Regions from separate parts of the Homo sapiens genome. Here region 2 is linked to region 1. Evidence: fine-mapped expression QTL. Tissue or cell type: esophagus muscle. Region 1 holds a variant in brackets; the other region holds the start of a gene. All regions are shown on one strand. Distances are between the middles of the regions.

The links. PIP is the estimated chance that this variant, and not a neighbour inherited with it, causes the effect. A credible set is the group of variants that fine-mapping cannot tell apart.
Region 2: it holds the start of CLDN18, and the variant in region 1 is the best candidate, but not a certain one, in a credible set for the expression of CLDN18 in esophagus muscle (GTEx, PIP 0.51).

Annotation. Positions count from the first base shown.
Region 1 is chr3:138,046,237-138,056,919 of GRCh38, reverse strand. It overlaps LOC105374128 (a long non-coding RNA gene), which reads left to right and starts at 1,160. Exons shown (of 2, transcript XR_001740930.2): 1 at 1,160-2,414; 2 at 7,592-10,683. RefSeq lists an enhancer at 9,244-9,897. The variant A/G (reference allele first, on the strand shown) is at 5,267.
Region 2 is chr3:138,007,797-138,015,070 of GRCh38, reverse strand. CLDN18 (claudin 18) reads right to left here and starts at 4,906. Exons shown (of 5, transcript NM_016369.4): 1 at 4,626-4,906. The coding sequence starts at 4,845.

The sequences.
Region 1 (10,683 bases):
GTGTTTTACTTTGTAATTTCTGCTTTTGGTGTCATAATTAGGAAGGTCTTTTCCATTCTAAGACTTCTACATGTTCATCTATATTTTCTTTTACTAGTTTAAAAAGTTTTAAAATTTTGAATATTTAATATATCCGGATTTTTTGAGGGGTGTTAGCAGTAAGTTAGGAATCTATTTTATTTTTACAATTAGCCAGTCATCTCAGCAGCATTACTTGACAATTCATCCTTTCTTCACTTAAAAAATACCTGCTTCATCAAATGTAAATTATTGTATGTGGTTAGTCTATTCCTGGACTTTCTGTATATTTCATTAATCTGACTATTCTGTTACTATTCTGGTATTGCACAGTTTTGTTTTTAAAAATTCATTTTTAATTGTGGTAAAATAACCCATAAAATTTATCATCTTAACCACCTCTAACTGTATTGTTCGGTGGTGTTGAGTATATGAACACTCTTGTGCAACCAATTTCCAGAATTTTTCGTCTTCCCCAACAGAAACTTTATACCCATTAAACAATTCCCTATCTCCCCCCACCCAGTTGCAGGCAACCACCATTCTACTTTCTATTTCTATGATTTTGACTACTCTAAGTACCATGTATGGTAGTATCATACAGTATTTGTCTTTTTGTGACTATCTTATTTCACTTAGCATAATGTCATCAAGGTTTATCCATGTTGCAGTGTGTGTCACAATTTCCTTTTTAAGATTAAATAATATTCCATTGTATGAATATATATCATTAAAGAATCCATTTGTCTGTTGACACTTGGGTTGCTCCCACATCTTGACTATTGTGAACAGTGCTGCTATAAACACAGCTGTGCAAATATTTCTCCAGGATCCTATTTTTAACTTTTTTGGATATATACCCAGAGTGGAATTACTGGATCATATAGTAATCATATAGTCTATTTTTTTATTTTTCAGGAACCTGTATACTGTTTTCCATTTTATTTTCCCACTGACAATGCACAAATGTTCCTATTTCTCCCCATCTTTGCTGACACTTGTTATTTTCTGTTTTTAAAAAAATATCAGCCATCCTAATGGATGTGAAATAATATCTCATTGCAGTTTTGATTTGCATTTCCCTAATGATTTGTGATGTTGAGCATCTTTTTATATGCTTGTTGGCCATTTGTGTATCTTCTTTGAAGAGATGTTTATCCAAGTCCTTTGCTTATTTTAAAATTGGGTTATTTGGGTTTTTTGTTGTTGAGTTATAGGAGCTTTATATATTGTGGGGTTAGATATGATTTGCAAATGGTTTTCTCTCATTTTATAGGTTGCCTTTTACTCTGTTCATTTTGTGTTTTGATGCAGAATTTTCAATTTTTATGTAGTCACGTTTATCTATTTTTACTTTTATTGCCTGTGTTTTGGTGTCATCTCCAAGAAATCCTTGCCAAATCCAATGTTGTGAATATTTCTCCCTATCTTTTCTTCCAAGAGTTTTATAGCTTTAGGTCTTATATTTAGGTCTTTGATCCAGTTAAATTTTGTATATGTTATAAGGTGGGGAGGGGGGAGGTCAAATTTCGCTATTCCGGACATGGATATCAAGTGTTCCTAACACCATGTGTTGAAGAGACTGTCCTTTTCCCATTGAATGGTCTTAACACCCTTGTTGAAAATCATGTGACCATATATGCAATTTTTATTTCTGGGGTCTCTATTCTACTCCATGGGTCTACATGTCTGTCTTTATACTAGTACTACACTATTTTGATTATTATAGCTTTGTCATAAATTTTGAAATCAGGAAGCATGAGACCTTCACTTTTGTTTTCCTTTTTCAAGATTGTTTTGGCTATTCAGGGTCCCTTGAGATTCCATATGAATTTTAGGATAGATTTTGCTATTCCTGCAAAAAATGTTGGGATTTTGATAGAGATTGCATCACATTTGTAGATTATTTTGGGTAGTATTTACATCTTAACAATACTAAGTCTTTCAATCCATGATCACATGATGTGTTTCCATTTATTGGTGTCTTCTTTAATTTTTTCCAGCAATGTTTTGAAGTTTTTAGTGTACAAATCTTTTGTTTGCTTGATTTGGTGTATTATTATCTTATTCTTTTTGATGTTATTATAAGTGGGATTGTTTTCTTAATTTCTTTTTCAGATTGTTCATTATTAATGTATAGAAATGCAACTGATTTTTGTGTGTTGATTTTGTATCCTTTAACTTTGCTGAATCCATTTATTGGTTCTAACAGTGAGCTATTCTTAGTCATGGAAATTTTATCATATGTTTTACCATCTTGCAAGACACAGATACTCTGATTATTTTTCTCTTTTAGAATTTTATATTGGCTATTTTTCAAATTTGAAATCACATCACATTCTTGTGAGGCCATCCCAATCTCCACATATGGATGAACGCATGGAATGCTCTGATGGGTAGGTGCCTTCATGAATTCTAATTAGAAATCTTCTTTGAAGTTGAGTCTTGAACCTTAGTTGTGGGCATCTTCTGAATACTTCTAAGCAGAAAGTCTCATTTCTCGCAATTCTTCCTGTTCTGGATTCTCATTAGGCTAGTTCTCTGTAATGCAGGAGTATAGTCCCTGGTAGTGTGAGGTAGCATTGTGCTATAGGCTGTTAACAAAAAGTTTTGCAGTTGATCCAAGGTTGCTAACTTTTATTTTGCCAAGTCAGCACATAAAATAAAGTATGCAACAATCACCATCATTTTATAAAGGACACTTTAATACCAGAAGAGTAAGAAGATAAGACTCTCCAAGAATGGACAATTGGCCTCATACTTTGTCTTAGACAAATGAAAATTTAGCAATGGACCAGCTCTGGCCCACAGCCTAGCACTTGGGAGCTGCTGCACTGGTTTGTGTCTTTGGACCATACCAGCTCTTCCCTTCCATGACTGCATGGTTCAATATAAAAAGGGAAAATTTAATTAGCTATATTTTCTGAGGTAAACTGAAGAATGTCCTGAACTTATACATATAGGGATAACATTGATTGGAAATATATAATAGGTTTATAGTGACAACCTGAAAAAGGTTTTTATCACCTGAAAACCTGAGCCCACAATTTAGGAAGTAGAAGATGCTCTGGTCTTGTGGCTGGAACCTAGTAGTGGTGTGTAACTGAGATAAAGATGAAGACCATTTTCAGCTTTAGAAAATCCAAAGTGAATTACATATTTATAATAAGCTGACTCACATGCTATAACCAAATTCTAGGCTTTTAGGGAATCTAAGTAAAGTAACCTCTAAAATCAACAGAGCATCAAGTGTGATTCTGCACTTTTCTTCTCTTCCCCGTGTCTCTCATTGCCAGTTTCTTCTTTCTTTCTTTCTTTCTTTTTTTTTTTTTTTTGAGATGGAGTCTCACTCTGTTGCACAGGCTGGAGTGCAGTGGCCTGATCTCGGCTGACTGCAACTTCTGCCTCCTGTGTTCAAGTGATTCTCCTGCCTCAGCCTCCTGAGTAGCTAGGATTACAGGCATGCGCCACCATGCCCAGTTAATTTTTGTATTTTTAGTAGAGATGGGGTTTTACCATGCTGGCCAGGCTGGTCTCGAACTCCTGACTTCAGGTGATCCACCTGCCTCGGCCTCCCAAAGTGCTGGGATTACAGGTGTGAGCCACCGTGCTTGGCCTCACTGCCAGTTTCTGAGGGGAGCTGCGAAGGTCCGCTAAGTCCTCTCCAGGCTTAGGTGGAAAGGATGTGGAAGGAATTGTCCTGCACCTGTGTGGCCTTCTCTACATCTGTGTTCATGCTTGTGTCTGTTACAAAAGGTTGCAAGCCTATCTCCCTGCTGGATGTAAAGATGCAGGCTCAACGTTTAGCATAGTCGACAGAAAACAGAGCTGCCAGTGGAGACACTAACATGTGTTAAGTTCTTTGGGAAGGAGGTGTCTCTGATGCTTATATCACTTGCATCTGCCCATAGCAGACACTCATCATCTGATAAGCTGAACTGGGCCAATTCCAAGGCAGTAATTGTGCCAGGAGTGTCTTCATGTATTATTCCACCTAATGACAAGACAAGCGAGAAGAGCTAACCTAAGCAGGGAGCCAGAAAGAAAAATGTTTCAAAGGGATAGAGAGGACTTTAAGTAAAGCTTGGGGGCGGCGGGGGTAATATAAGGACCTGATCCAGAAAAGATGGGATGAGCTGAATTGTTCTTCCATTGGCAATAGCTGACCATTGTTAGGCTTTTGTGGAAGAGGAAGCTGCATTTTGTACTCAATAAACTATCAGTGCAATGGATCAAATGATTGGTATGAAAGAATAGAGAAGTGCCCATTGATTCTGCGATTCTGACCTCAATCAGGGATCTTAGAGAGGAGATCAGTGAGAACTTAGACCACATAGCTGATCACTAAGGGTTCATTGAACCCACAGATCCAACGGCCTTTTCTTTGGTAAATTGAGCATAATAGTCACATGGAGGGAGTGCTTTGGGTTCCCCGAGTGAAGGTGATGGGCTGGTTTAAAAGCTGCCACTGCTTCGGTTTTATTTTGTGCATGTCCAGCCAACAGGTGCCTTCCACACGGTGGCACTGTGGGCCACAAAGTGAATGGCTACACAGGCACTTTTTAATGACAGGCTAACTTCACTGTAAGAAATAAGTGGGGCTCCTCCAGCCTGCACCACCACTCATGGTTTGGCAGGACTTGATGAATTGTCTTATTCATCCAGGCAACTCTCCCGTGATTAAAAAACAAAACAAAACACAAAACCCCCAACATTTAAAGATAGAAAATGGAGCAGGACAGGGTATGGCCTCTCTTGCTTTCCTGCATACCCTTGTGTTGCCACGGCCCAGCTGAGGTCCTTGCACAGAAAAGGCAATCAACAAATATTGATGGGTTTCACAACCTGTACCTGCACTCAAGGAGCCTCACTATTAGGAGCTTTTCCGCAGCCTGGAAATATCCAGCATGCATGGCAATCCCACACTGAAAGGTCCTTATGACCCTGTTGCTTCCTCAGCTGCTGTACCATTTCTGTCATTTTGTTTGTGGATACATCTAATTGATTTGTCTATACCGGCTGAATCCTTTTCCTCATTCTGCCAGTTTCTTATATATATTCACTCTTAACTGAATCTGAGCTTTGGCTGACATGCCCTTGAACTGCCCTTGAACTATTCCTCACTCCTCAACTTCCCAGCACATATGCATACCACCACTATTTATTTTCTTTCTTTCTTTTCTTTTCTTTCCTTTTTTTTTTGAAACAGGGTCTTGCTCTGTTACCCAGGCTAGAGTGCGGTAGTGCA[A/G]TCACAGCTCACTGCAGCCTCAACCTCCCAGGCTCAAGAGATCCTCCTCCTGCCCCAGCCTCCTGAGTAGCAGGGACCACAGATCCAGATAACTTTTTATTTTTTATAGAGATGGGGGTCTCCCTATGTTGCCCAGGCTGGTCTTGAACTCCTGGGGTCAAGTAATCCTCCCATCTGAGCTTCCCAAGGTGCTAGGATTATAGGTGTGCACCACTGTGCCTGGCCCCACTGCAATTTTCATTATCTCTGCCATCATCACTACCACCTCCACCTCCACCACCATCATCACCACCACTACCTCCTCCACCTCCACATCCACCACCATCACTACCATCACTCCACTACCACCATCACCACCTCTACCACCACCACAACCACCACCTCCACCACTACCACCTCCACCTCCACCACCACCATCACTACCATCACTCCATTACCACGATCACCACCTCTACCACCACCATCACCTCCACTACCACCTCCACCTCCACCATCACTACCATCATTTCACTACCACCACCACCACCACAACCACCACCTCCACCACTACCACTAACACCTCCACATCTACCACCATCACTACCATCACTCCATTACCACCATCACTACCTCTACCACCACCACAACCACCACCTCCACCACAACCACTTCCACCTCCACATCTACCACCATCACTACCATCACTCCATTATCACCATCACTACCTCTACCACCACCACAACCACCACCACTACCACAACCACCTCCACCACTACCACTAACACCTCCACATCTACCACCATCACTACCATCACTCCATTACCACCATCACCACCTCTACCACCACCACAACCACCACCTCCACCACAACCACTTCCACCTCCACATCTACCACCATCACTACCATCACTCCATTATCACCATCACTACCTCTACCACCACCACAACCACCACCACTACCACAACCACCTCCACCACTACCACTAACACCTCCACATCTACCACCATCACTACCATCACTCCATTACCACCATCACTACCTCTACCACCACCTCCACCACAACCACTTCCACCTCCACCACCACAGCTATTACCACCACCTCTACTACCCCTATTACCATTATTACCACCCTCTTACCACCACCACCATCACTACCACCACCTCCACAAACACCATCTCCATATATTTATGCAAGTAATCTGAACGTTGTTGCCTATTTGTGAAAGTAGCTTCCATTGTAGAATGGGTGAAAGAAACTGAAGATGGAGGACAGGAGCTCCAATTAAAATTCTAGCAGCCACAAACTTGTTTTATGACCTTGGGAAAGTCATGGAACCTTTTGTTTTCTCATCTGTGAAGTGAGGAGGCTGGCAGAGTCAGTCCCCTAGACTTACAGCATATATAATTCCATGAATGCTGCAGGCTTTAGAAATTTACTTGTACCTTTAAAAAGGTTAGTCAATTTACTAATTATAACCTGAAAGTCTTTTTGATATTTAGAAAATCCTCTTGCTTTTTCTTTGTTCTTTGAAAATTTAGAGCTGCCTCATTTCATAATGCCTGAAGCCTATATTTATAATCAGCATCTATTTCATGGTTCCGAGCCGTTTTTCACATAATTGTCTTTTTTTTTTTTTTTTTTTGCTTTAGAATTAGTTCTTTTGTGGCTAATGTATAGCAGAAACAAAATGACTTTTGAAAAAGCCCTTCAGGAATTATGGGGTTCGCTGCTATATCATTAGGGGCCCACACAGCTCTGCGACAGAACTGGGTCTTAGAAGGAGAAGGCAGCCCTGTTCTGGGAGACGGAGGCAGGGGGTGTTTGCAGATCTGCAGTGGGCGTAGATGGTGGTTTGAGGGTGGCCTGGAAGAAGCCAGAAAATGGTAGTCTGGACTTGAGAGAGGAGAGGGATGAGGTGTGTCCAGGGAGGTCTGCAGGGGGCAGTAGATCACAGAGCACAGGGAGGATGAGCGCGGAGGGTGCAGGTGACAGCTCTGTTGCTATGTGGGGCACTCTGGGCCCTTCGGCAGGGAACGTCACCTTACCTAGGACCCCCAGATTAGTAGATCTAGGTGCATTTGGGCTTCACATGTCATGCTGGTGACATCATTGCTTACTTGCGATGTTGAGTCACATGTCAGCCTCCTGTGGATGTTGGCTTCCAGCAACTCCCTCTAATCTTGTTGCTGTGCTTTGTTGTTGAGACCAAATACAAATCCTACCCAGAGTATGCAGAGAATCTGAATGATAATGTTCTGGTCTTGTTAAATTTGCCATTTGAAATTTCATAATGTAAATGTAGCATGACACATCTACCAATCATGTCTTCTCTTTGACTTTTTAGGCCTTAACCCCCACATTCCTAGAATGTGATTTCTTTCAATGTTGACATACCCCTGCCTTCCACACACAGCCATCTGCAGGCCGGCTAGGCAAAAGGCCTGTGGATGGAGTGAGAAGAGCAAGATATGTCCATTGTGCAAGGCATGCCCAAACATTTTCCACCATGGCTTAAAACTGAAGCTGGAGAGCATGATGTCACCATGTCAGCTGGAGGCAAGAAAGGACATTGGTTGGAAGGGACCACTGGTGTTGCAGAGCAACAGTCTCGAAGGCTCTCGGAGGCTATGGCTGAGACCACCCCCAGAGGCCTGCTTCATATGTGGCATGAAGCCCGTGAGGTGTGGGGAGACTGCCCTGGGAGTCAGAGTTGGGCACGCACAAGGTGAACGATGCCTGCTGCCATTGGATGTCATAGACCTGAGGCAGCACTGTGAACAGAACATGGAAGGGTGAGAGTGGATGCATGGGTCCACACATGTGACAATGGGCTTTTGATAGCCCAGAGTTCTGAACTTATTCTGTGAAAAATGTGAGTGAGAGTCACCCTAAGTCAGACCTTCAGCACCATTTTAGGCACCCATACCCTAGGATGCACATCGTGGGATTCGTACTCTGGGATCCACACCTTGGGATCTCACCCTGGTAAGCCCACCTCCCCTTTGTGTTTCTCAAGCCACAAGTGAGTGGTGCTGCCACAGGGTTCTCCATCTAAGGCACGTCCACCTGGGGTATCAATTTTATTTGAATATCTGAGGGGATAAAATTAAGCATTTTAACTGGGAAATAACTTTATCTTTAAACAGTTACAACAGATATAGATGTATTTTGAAGCAGAATGCAACATGCACAATACTTCATACTTAGAGCTGTCCACTTGAGTCCTGGTCCTGCTGGCCTTGCAAGGACATAGGCTATTTCCTCTATGTATTTTTAAAAAATTTATTATCATTATTAACATATAATTAATATAATATAACTTCAGCACGTTAAGGTATACAATTCAGTAGTTTTCAGTATATTCATAATGTGCAACTATCCCCACAGTTCCCCTGTGTTTAAGGGTCCCTTTCATGGAAAGGTTCAGGAAGTGCTGCCTGCCGATGCCACTCTGCCTCCAGAGTAGAATTTGCAGCATCAGTGACAGGAGATAGGGAAAAACCTTTATTAGAGGAGGACTGGGTGTCATGGGGCTGCATTTTCAGCTCCTATCAAGTCCTTCCACTTAGGCAACTCTCCTTCTTTCTATTTGGGAGGCAGACCATTGCTTCGTGTGAGAGCTTGAGTATTCATGCTGTGATGTGTGGATTATCACCCAAAGAAACAAGGATGGAGTTTTCCTGCCATCGACATCACTGACTCACAAAGGACAGCTTAGAAACTGTGAAGACTCCTGAGAGACTAGAAGGGGCTGGACTTGCTTTTAATCAGGTTTCAATGCAGAGACGGGTGTCCTGTCAGTTCCCTTATTCAGAGACACGTTTGTTGTGGCATTAATAAACAAAGTCAGCATTCCCTGGAGACCAACAAAAGCCTGATCCAATGTGAGTTTGTGCGTTTCTGTAAAGATTTGTGGTGGGATTCCAGGCAGTATAAATAATAGTCTTCTACTCACTGCAGATACCTTGACTATTCCTGGGGGCCAGATCCTTGGTTATGTTTTTGTTTTAAATCACATTTTATGCAAATTCACAGGCAGGCTCAAACAATGGTGAGTCCTCTTGTCATTCCTGGCCATTAGCTCAGCTGAATGAAGATTCAGGAGTAGGAAAGCAAGTCTCTGAACTTGCCTCTGCTTTGAGATTTTCTTATCTTGCAGAGTCTCCTGAGATTTTTGCGACAACCATATACCTTCTCAAAGCCGTATAGCAAAGTCTTGCTAGCTTAGATCCTAAATTTCATAATACACACCCGTTGCAAGTTCCAAGAATTCACTGTATCAGAAAATAGCTCCTGCCTCTTTGAGAAATGGTAATTTTTTACGTAGCTCTGAATAACATAGCTATTCTTCATAGACCACATACTGTGTGCTGGATGCTTTACCCATTATCTTTAATCCTCACAACAACCTTGCAAGGTAGGTATTGGCCTCTGTTGACTGGGCTGCTGAGGCTAAGACAGGTTAGTAACTGGCCTGCTTTCACACGCTGGGCTAGGAAGTGCCCCGCCTCAAAATTTCCCAAGACACCCTCCCCAGCTTGTGAACCATACTTCTCAATTGGTCTCATGTCAGGAGAATTGAAACATGGGCTTTGAGTCAGACAGACATGATTCAGATCCTAGCACCAGTAACTACTAGATGAATGACTGGGCAAGTCAGGTAACCTCCCCAAGCCTCAGTTTCCTCAGCTGTAACTGTGATAAAGATGCTTTGGGAGGTAGTTATGGGAATGGAATGAGATGAATGCTTCCAAGTCCCCAGAATGGCATCAGCACATTGCATAGCAGACCAGAATCTCGACAAATGATCCTTCTCTTTTCTTCCTTATTCATCTTTATACATGTTGTGGCACCTGGCACAAAATAGGTACTCAAAGAAATATTTGTGGAAGTAAATTCAAAGGATTCTCCATGACCTTGTTTCATACGGACATCATGAAGTGGGACCCTCTCCAAAAGCTCCCTGGAAGAACAAAAGAAGTTTTGAAGCATGTCAAAGCTACTCATGGTTACAATCTTTAGGATGAGGCAGACAGACAAAAATAATGCTAAAAATAACAATAGTACTAACATTCTGAAGTAAAATTTACTAGGTGGAGTGCTGTTGCTCTTCAAGGAACAGCAGTAGTTGAGGATTGTCAAGTACCCTGAAGCACAAGGGACAATAAATGTGACAAGAACAGCTCCTGGGTTTGGGGGATTATTCAACAACGATTAGATTGGTTAGAGACAGTGCACTTTTGTATGTATATCCTTGCTTAAGAGTAGAGAAAATAAAATGTAAGATTTTTGAATATGTAACATGGGGTGTTAGAGTGAATGCGTCTTCACTGATGCAGGGAGTGTTTGGCCGGGGTCCATCTCAGAAAGGAATTCAAGAGGGCAAACATGTGGCATGTGTACTGCTGGTTCCCAGTCAGTCCTATGACAGGCATT
Region 2 (7,274 bases), 40 kb after region 1:
AGCTTCTAACTCCAGCTCCAGTGATTTTCCTGCCACAGCCTCCTGAGTAGCTGGGATTACTGGCATACACCACTGTGCCCAGCTAGTTTTAAAAAATTTTGTTACTGTAGAGATGGGATCTCATTTTGTTGCCCAGGCTGGTCTTGAACTCCTGGCCTCAAGCAATCCTCCCACCTCAGCCTCCCAAAGTGATGGGATTACAGGGGTAAGTCACCACTCCCAGCTCCTGCCCATTCCTTATCTAAGTCATCAAATAGATATTTGTATTTTGGGGTGCCAATTTGTAGTGTAGCCACTCCTGCTGCATGAGGACTGTCTGCTTTTAAGTCCACAGTCTTCTTGAAGGCCACAGATTTTCAGTGATTTCAAGTACCTCCTTTTCTGCAAACTCAATCCCAAGAAGTGTTTTTTTCTGGCTTTTGGTGAAATCCTCTTCCCTCAACTCAGATAGGCAGAACTGGGGTATACTTCTGTGGTGGCTGCTGGGAACTATCCCCCAGTTCCCATGGTGGTTCAGTCCAGCTTGGTTTTTCACAGCACAATTGGGAGACAGGACACAGAGCAGCACCGACTTCCCCCTCCCCCAGCCCCCTATGCTTGTTGTGTGCCATGCTGGGTTTTGTAGGAGATGCAAGACGGGCACATCAGAGTCCTCTGGCCACAATCTTACCACCGACAGAGCTTACCAATAGATGGTGTTGTGACCAACAGTTTCCAAGAGCCCTCAGTGCATGGCTACTGGCCCTGACATTCACATTTGCTGTCCTCCAGCTGGGATTTGAGGAAAGTCATTTCTTCCAGCTTCCCTAAAATCCTTCTCAGAGAGCCAAGGACCTCTCCTTTCGTGGGTCTGAAACATCTCAGGGTTCCATGAGTGGCAACTGGCTTCTCTCTCTAAGAGCTCTTTGTCTGGCCTGACACGGAATAAAAGTACCTAGCATCACCAATTCTCCCACCTCTCTTCCTCCCTCTCTTCCTCTCTACTTTCTTCCTTCTCACCTTCCCTCCCTCTCTCCCTCACCCACTGTTCCTTTCTTCCTCCTTACTTTTTGAAAAAAATGTGCTTTCCGCCCCCACCCCCATGGCCATATTTACATTCCTCTGTTATTAAATGTTAGGGAATTTTTACATTGCAGAAATTTACCTTAAACCCCTCCTCTTTCCTGATTCCAGGCCATCCCCACCAAAATGTCTAGCTCTGAAATTACACGCTATATATTATCTTGTGTCAGATGATAGTTTACACATATAATTCTATCATATTTGTTTAAATATAAATTAATGGTATATCTTCTTTTGCAATCTCATTGGTTTTGACTATTTGATGTTCAGGGAATTATCTGTCTGGCAGAACTGAAATTAGTGTGGTTGATGTGTTGCAGCCCAGGAAGTTACTACTCAAATGCTCCCTGTGGTAGAGACAGTAGGTGCTCACCCAATAGCTATGTGCTCCTACATCTCCCAGCTCCTGGGGCCATATGGCTAGTTGTGGCCAACGCACTGTGAGTGACATGTGTTCCTTTCAGATTGAAGCAGTTAAGAACTGTTGTGCCTCCTTCAAGCCTTTCTTCTCTTGCCCCAGCAACTTTGAAGAGTGTAGCTACAAGGAGGCTGCTCTTCCCACAGTGGACTTTATGTGGGCAGGAAGTAAACTTTTGTTGTGTCAAGCCATTGAGATGTTTAGGTTTGTTTGTTGCAGCAGCAGACATTAACTACTCTGACTAATAGAGTTCCTGAACTCTAGTCTCTGCAACACAGTAGGCATGCAAGAGATATTTGTTAAATACATGATTGGATGAACAAATGAATCTGTTCCAGGCAGGAGGAGGACCAGGTCCTTTTCTATATATGGAGCCATAATAACAAAAAATTTATAGTACAAAAATGATTTACTGTCCTTTTTGGGGAAGACCTTAACCTGTTTTTAGTTCAATGGCTTGCATAAACACTTAAAATGAACTATTCGTACTATTTAATTCAACTTAGTTTATCAATCCTTTGCTAAATACTCACTCTACCAGGCGCTTTTCTGGGAAATGGGGAAATAATTCTTATCCAGCTGAAGGGAAACACCACATAGAAGCTGAATGACACAAATGTACAAATAACCAAGTTAGTAAGCTAAAGTTCAGACTCAAACAGAACTCCCTTAGCAAAACTGTCCTGATTTCCTCCCCTCCTGACTCTTCCTACTGAATAACCACTTTCTTCCTGGGCTCCAAACACTTGTGTCAAAGCCCCATGACATGTGTTGCCTTTGCTTTGATATTCACACACATGCCTGTCCCCTCTGCTGGAATTTACGGTGCCGACAAGGCCAGTTTTGTGTTGTGTACTCTTTGTAGGTATGCAATAAATGCTTCTCAGATTTGAGAGCAGTGTCACGCGGGGTGAATATGCTCAATGCTATGAGAATGCTCTGGGTTTGGTACAGAGACTTGTGGAATCTTTATTCAATTTGGGGGCTTGAGGAGGTTTGGAGGAAGATTTGTGAGAGGACAGTTGGGGTGGTGGAGGGGGGAATTCAGGGGAGCAGGAGCAATGGATGTCCAGGACCAAGTCCAAGGTATACTGAAAGGACAGAAGAAACAGGATGGGGGAGTAAGAGACTGCCAAGGAAGGTAGGTGAGGGGTTAGGAAGGCTTGGTGTCAGGCTGTTATGTGTGCACCTAGTTAAGCTGGGAATGGGGAACCGTGGAAGTTGTTTGGGTTTTGAAATGTCTAAGGAGATGAGAACTGAGAACTAGGAGTTGGTGACTGAAATACTCCCCTTCATCCTCTGCTATGGTCAAAAAAGCAAACATTCTATAGAGATGAAGGATAGAAACCAGACTGAGAAAGGTTAAGGGTGAGAGGTAGTGGAAAAACTTAGTCTTTTAATTTGGTTTGTCAGTGACCCAGGAGAGAGACAGAACTTGACAATGATCAGGATCAACAGATTTCCCCAGGAAGGAGGCCATATGCATAAGTGAGGAGAAGAGATGAAAGAGGCAAGGAGGAGAGGGGCTGACCAACAGGGCATGATCCCAGACAGGTGGCATGAGGCCTTCAGAGCCCTGCTGGGGAGGTTGACCTTAGCAGGAGAGGTTGACCTTAGCAGGAAAGCAGGGAAGATAATCTTGTTCCATCAAGGGGGAGAGGTGGAGCTATTCTGAGAGGGTGTCATGGAGATAAGATCCGTTGACAGAATAGGAGTGACAAGTCACAGTGGACGCAATGGGGTTTGCCCATTTAGGAGAGTGGGAATATTCAGGAGCCCCATGTATGGAGACTGTGATACACAGTGAGCAAGAGATTGATAATATGTAGTGGGGCCCTGGGGAGAGGTTATTGAACATGAAGTCATAAGACATCATGCCTTAATTTTGAATATGAGGACAATATTTTTTCTTTATATGATAGTTAAAATTAGACATAACTAGCAACTCAACACTCTGTGTGGCATTTCCTGCATCTCACCTCTCCCCTCCCACTACAGCATAATCCCTCCTCAGTCTGGTTCTCTTTCTTTTGGCCAGGTTCTACCTCCCTTGCTTCCCTAAGCAGGTCTTTCCCCGGAGTCAGTCATCCTGTTGGTCCTGCAATAAGTGGCTTCCAAAAAATGGAATAAATAATCAAATTCTTCTACTCTGACACCCATCTTCTATTTCTTTCTGAAAATGAACTTGGATTAGTTGAATTGCTTTTCACAATTCAATTCAGTTTCAAGGGCTCTACAGCCTCTTCACAATTTCTTGCAAATTTATTTCCATCTACTTGTTTATAAAAGGTATTTGTTTCAGAGACATTGTTCTCCTTTCTCCATCACACTCACATCTTGGCCACCCCTTAGAGCCACTAATTAGCTAGAGCTATTATTTTCTTGTTTGCATTTTAAAAATACAAATAGAGCTCCCATATTATTCAGAATGCAAAGTTGCTATGATGCATATTTGAAGTAATTATCTATATTAAAAGCAGGGGTTTAATTTATTTCATCTTTAGGGGTGAAAGGATGTCACATTTATAATTATATTTATATTCTGACATAATATAATTATAATTCTGTAATTATATTTTGATATACATTGATTTTTAGGACAGTATACAAGATATTCTTAATACAAATGCAGCAAAAGGATATTTATAATTTAATGGCAATATTCTTTTTGGCACCCACAGAGACTCCAACTTTGAAAAATTTAATTGAAATGGAAAGAAAATTAAATTAGCTCTCAATAAACTTTTCCAGATATAACAAAATACTCAGCATCCTGCTTCCCTGCTCCCATGTATGTGCAGGCAGGAGCAAGCCACATGCAAGTAATGCACACAATTTATTTTCTCCTTGAGAAACACGAGTTTATTCCAGGTATCATGAACATACCCTTACAATAGACCCATTCTTCTTGAGGCCTGCCTCCTCACTAGCGATTCCTTCGCCTTGAGTATTAACCCTCCCATTTTCTCCTGCATGACTGTTGCCCTATTAGACACGAGCCAGCTTCTCCTTTTATTCACACCTTTCATTCTGAGCCAGAGCTGCCAGGGTCCTCACCCAGAGGTGGGAGTGGGGCTTAACGCAAACGCCCCCTTCCCTGCTCACCTGGTTCACCTGGCTCTACCCCGGGGTGCACGGTGCCTACCTGGAAGTCCCAGGATGGTGAAATAGGGCCTGCATTCGGTGAAGCCTGAACTCTGCCTCACGCAGCTCCTCCAGAGCCCTTCGTACTGGAACACGGAGGTGACGGGGTTGTCGTACAGGTCCTGGGTGCTCCACATGTCCATCCCGGTGGCCGCGATGCAGCCGGCCAGCCCCAGGATGGACAGGAGGAACGCCACCACTTGGCATGTGGTGGTGGACATGATCCTGGCCGCCCGCCCTGCCGCCTGCGAGAAGCTGCCGCCCTCCTGCTGCCGAAGGTGTGAAGCTAACGCGCTCCTGAGGGGAGCTCTTCTAATCAGATGGTTTCCCTAGGCTCTCAGTATTTGCTCACAGTGTTTTCCTTAGATAGCTCAGTTTCGCTCCTGGTTCAAGGGCATTATTTTTACATTTGTTAGAGAAGCGGGCCCAAGAGGCACTTGTCTGCTCTCCGCAGGCCGGGTGGGTTCAGCGCAGAGCCGTGCCAGGGAGCAGAAGGACTCCCTGCTCCGGGCCAGACCGGCCTCCCTCCAGCTCCGGCTCCTCCGGAGAGCGCCGCCATCTGGAGAAAAGGCTGACGTGTCCCCACCACGGGGAACGTGACTGCAGACCACTTTGGCTGACCTCGCTTAAGATGGCCCCTGGGAAGCACCCACCGTGCTCTGTCTTAAACCAGACTTTTCACATTTTCTCCTCACAACTCATGAACGACTTTTTTCACTTACATCTTTCCATTTTGATCTTACAGAAATGGGTAGGGCAGGCACTATTATCCCCATTTTTTGGGGGTGAGTCAAGAAAAGTACAGATAAGTTAAGGGACTTGTCCCAGTGCCTGGAACCACAGATACTCTAAAAACGGCAGGGGTGGGGCTCCCACCTCAGCTTCCAGTCCAGCGCTCTTTCTCTGTTTCCATATGGAGCAGCAGGGGCAGGCAAAATTGTCCCCACTTTTGAGAACACGAAGCCAAATCCTAGATCTATGCTCTTGGTCCATAAGCATTGGAACTGGGATGAGAGGAAGCCAGGGACCCCGTTGATTTCCATGTCATGCTTTCACTCGTGCCACAAGAACCACATGAGGACTCTGTGGCTGACACAGGAGGTCCCACAAAGGCCAGAGGAGGGACCAGGGTTAGCTGGGCTGAAGTCCTTGGCCTGGTCACGGAGAGGCTTAGGATCTGCTCCTGATGCTGCCCCTAACTTGTCGTGTGCTGGGCAGGTTGGGGGCAAACTCCTAAGCCCTTGTAGGTCACAGGTTCTTCATCCACAACATGTGAGATCTAAACTAGAACACTCCAGAGCCTTTTCAGATCTCATACACTATCTTCTACATTTTGCAGAAAAGTTTTCACTAGAATTGGTCAAAATATTAGGAATTGTATAATCACAGTAGAGAGACTTGGCTGAAGACATCAGGTGTTATGTTTTGTCTATACAACTAAATTTTGCTAGAGAATTGGTTGACGGATATGGGGGCCAGGTATGTCTGGCCTCTGAATCCAGAGACTTTTTAAAAATTTTTTGAGATGGAGTCTTGCTCTGTTGCCCAGACTGGAGTGCAGTGTTGTCATCGGGGTCACTGCAAATTCTGCCTCCTGGGTTCAAGCAATTCTCATGCCTCAGCCTCCAGAGTATTTGGAACTATACATGCATACCACCACACCCGGCTAATTTTTATGTTTTTAGTAGAGACAGGGTTTCACCATGTTGCTTACGCTGGGCTCGAATTCCTGAGCTCAAGTGATCTGCTTATCTTGGCTTCCCAAAGTGCTGGGATTACAGGCGTGACTCACTGTGCCTGGCTTCCAGATATATTTTGTTTTTATTTATTTATTTATTTATTTTGAGAGGGAGTCTCACTCTGTCGCCCAGGCTGGAGTGCAGTGGCGCAATCTTGGCTCACTGCAACCTCCACCTCCTGGGTTCAAGCGATTCTCCTGCCTCAGCCTCCTGACTAGCTGAGATTACAGGCGCCTGCCACCACACCCAGCTAATTTTTGTATTTTAGTAGAGATGGGGTTTCACCATGTTGGTCAGGCTGGCCTCGAACTCCTGACCTCAAATGATCTGCCTGCCTCGGCCTCCCAAAGTGCCAGGATTGCAGGCGTGAGCCACTGTGCCCAGCCCTCCGGAGACATTTTAATGACACTCTCCAAAATCTGGACCTCAAGGCCCTGAAACATACACACACACCCACACACACCCCCACACACCCCCACACTCCCCCCCCACATACATACTCCAATCTTTAACCTTTATAGGTCTTTACAGGTTCTCCAGGAAACGAGCCTCTGTGTCTGGACATTTTGTTATCTTGGGTGCACCCAGCCTCTGCTCCCACTGCATTATTCCCAGCAAACACAGAAAGCAAATAGGGAAGAACTACCTCTAATTTGAATGGAGGCAACACTCCCCTTCACTGCACACCTTACTTTAGGTTCTGTGATCAGTGTTTCTAGTGAAGCATGAGCCAGAAAGCCTAAAATAAGAGGGTAAGCAACAGTTACATGATCTACAGTGAAGGAATGTTGATGGCAGTGTGTCCCTTGAGTTGTTACAAGGCCAATTCTAAAAGGAGGGAAGGGAACAGTTAGAAGTGACACTGGTTTCTGCTGGTGGGCATAGATTGACCAATTAGGTTGAAAACTGTT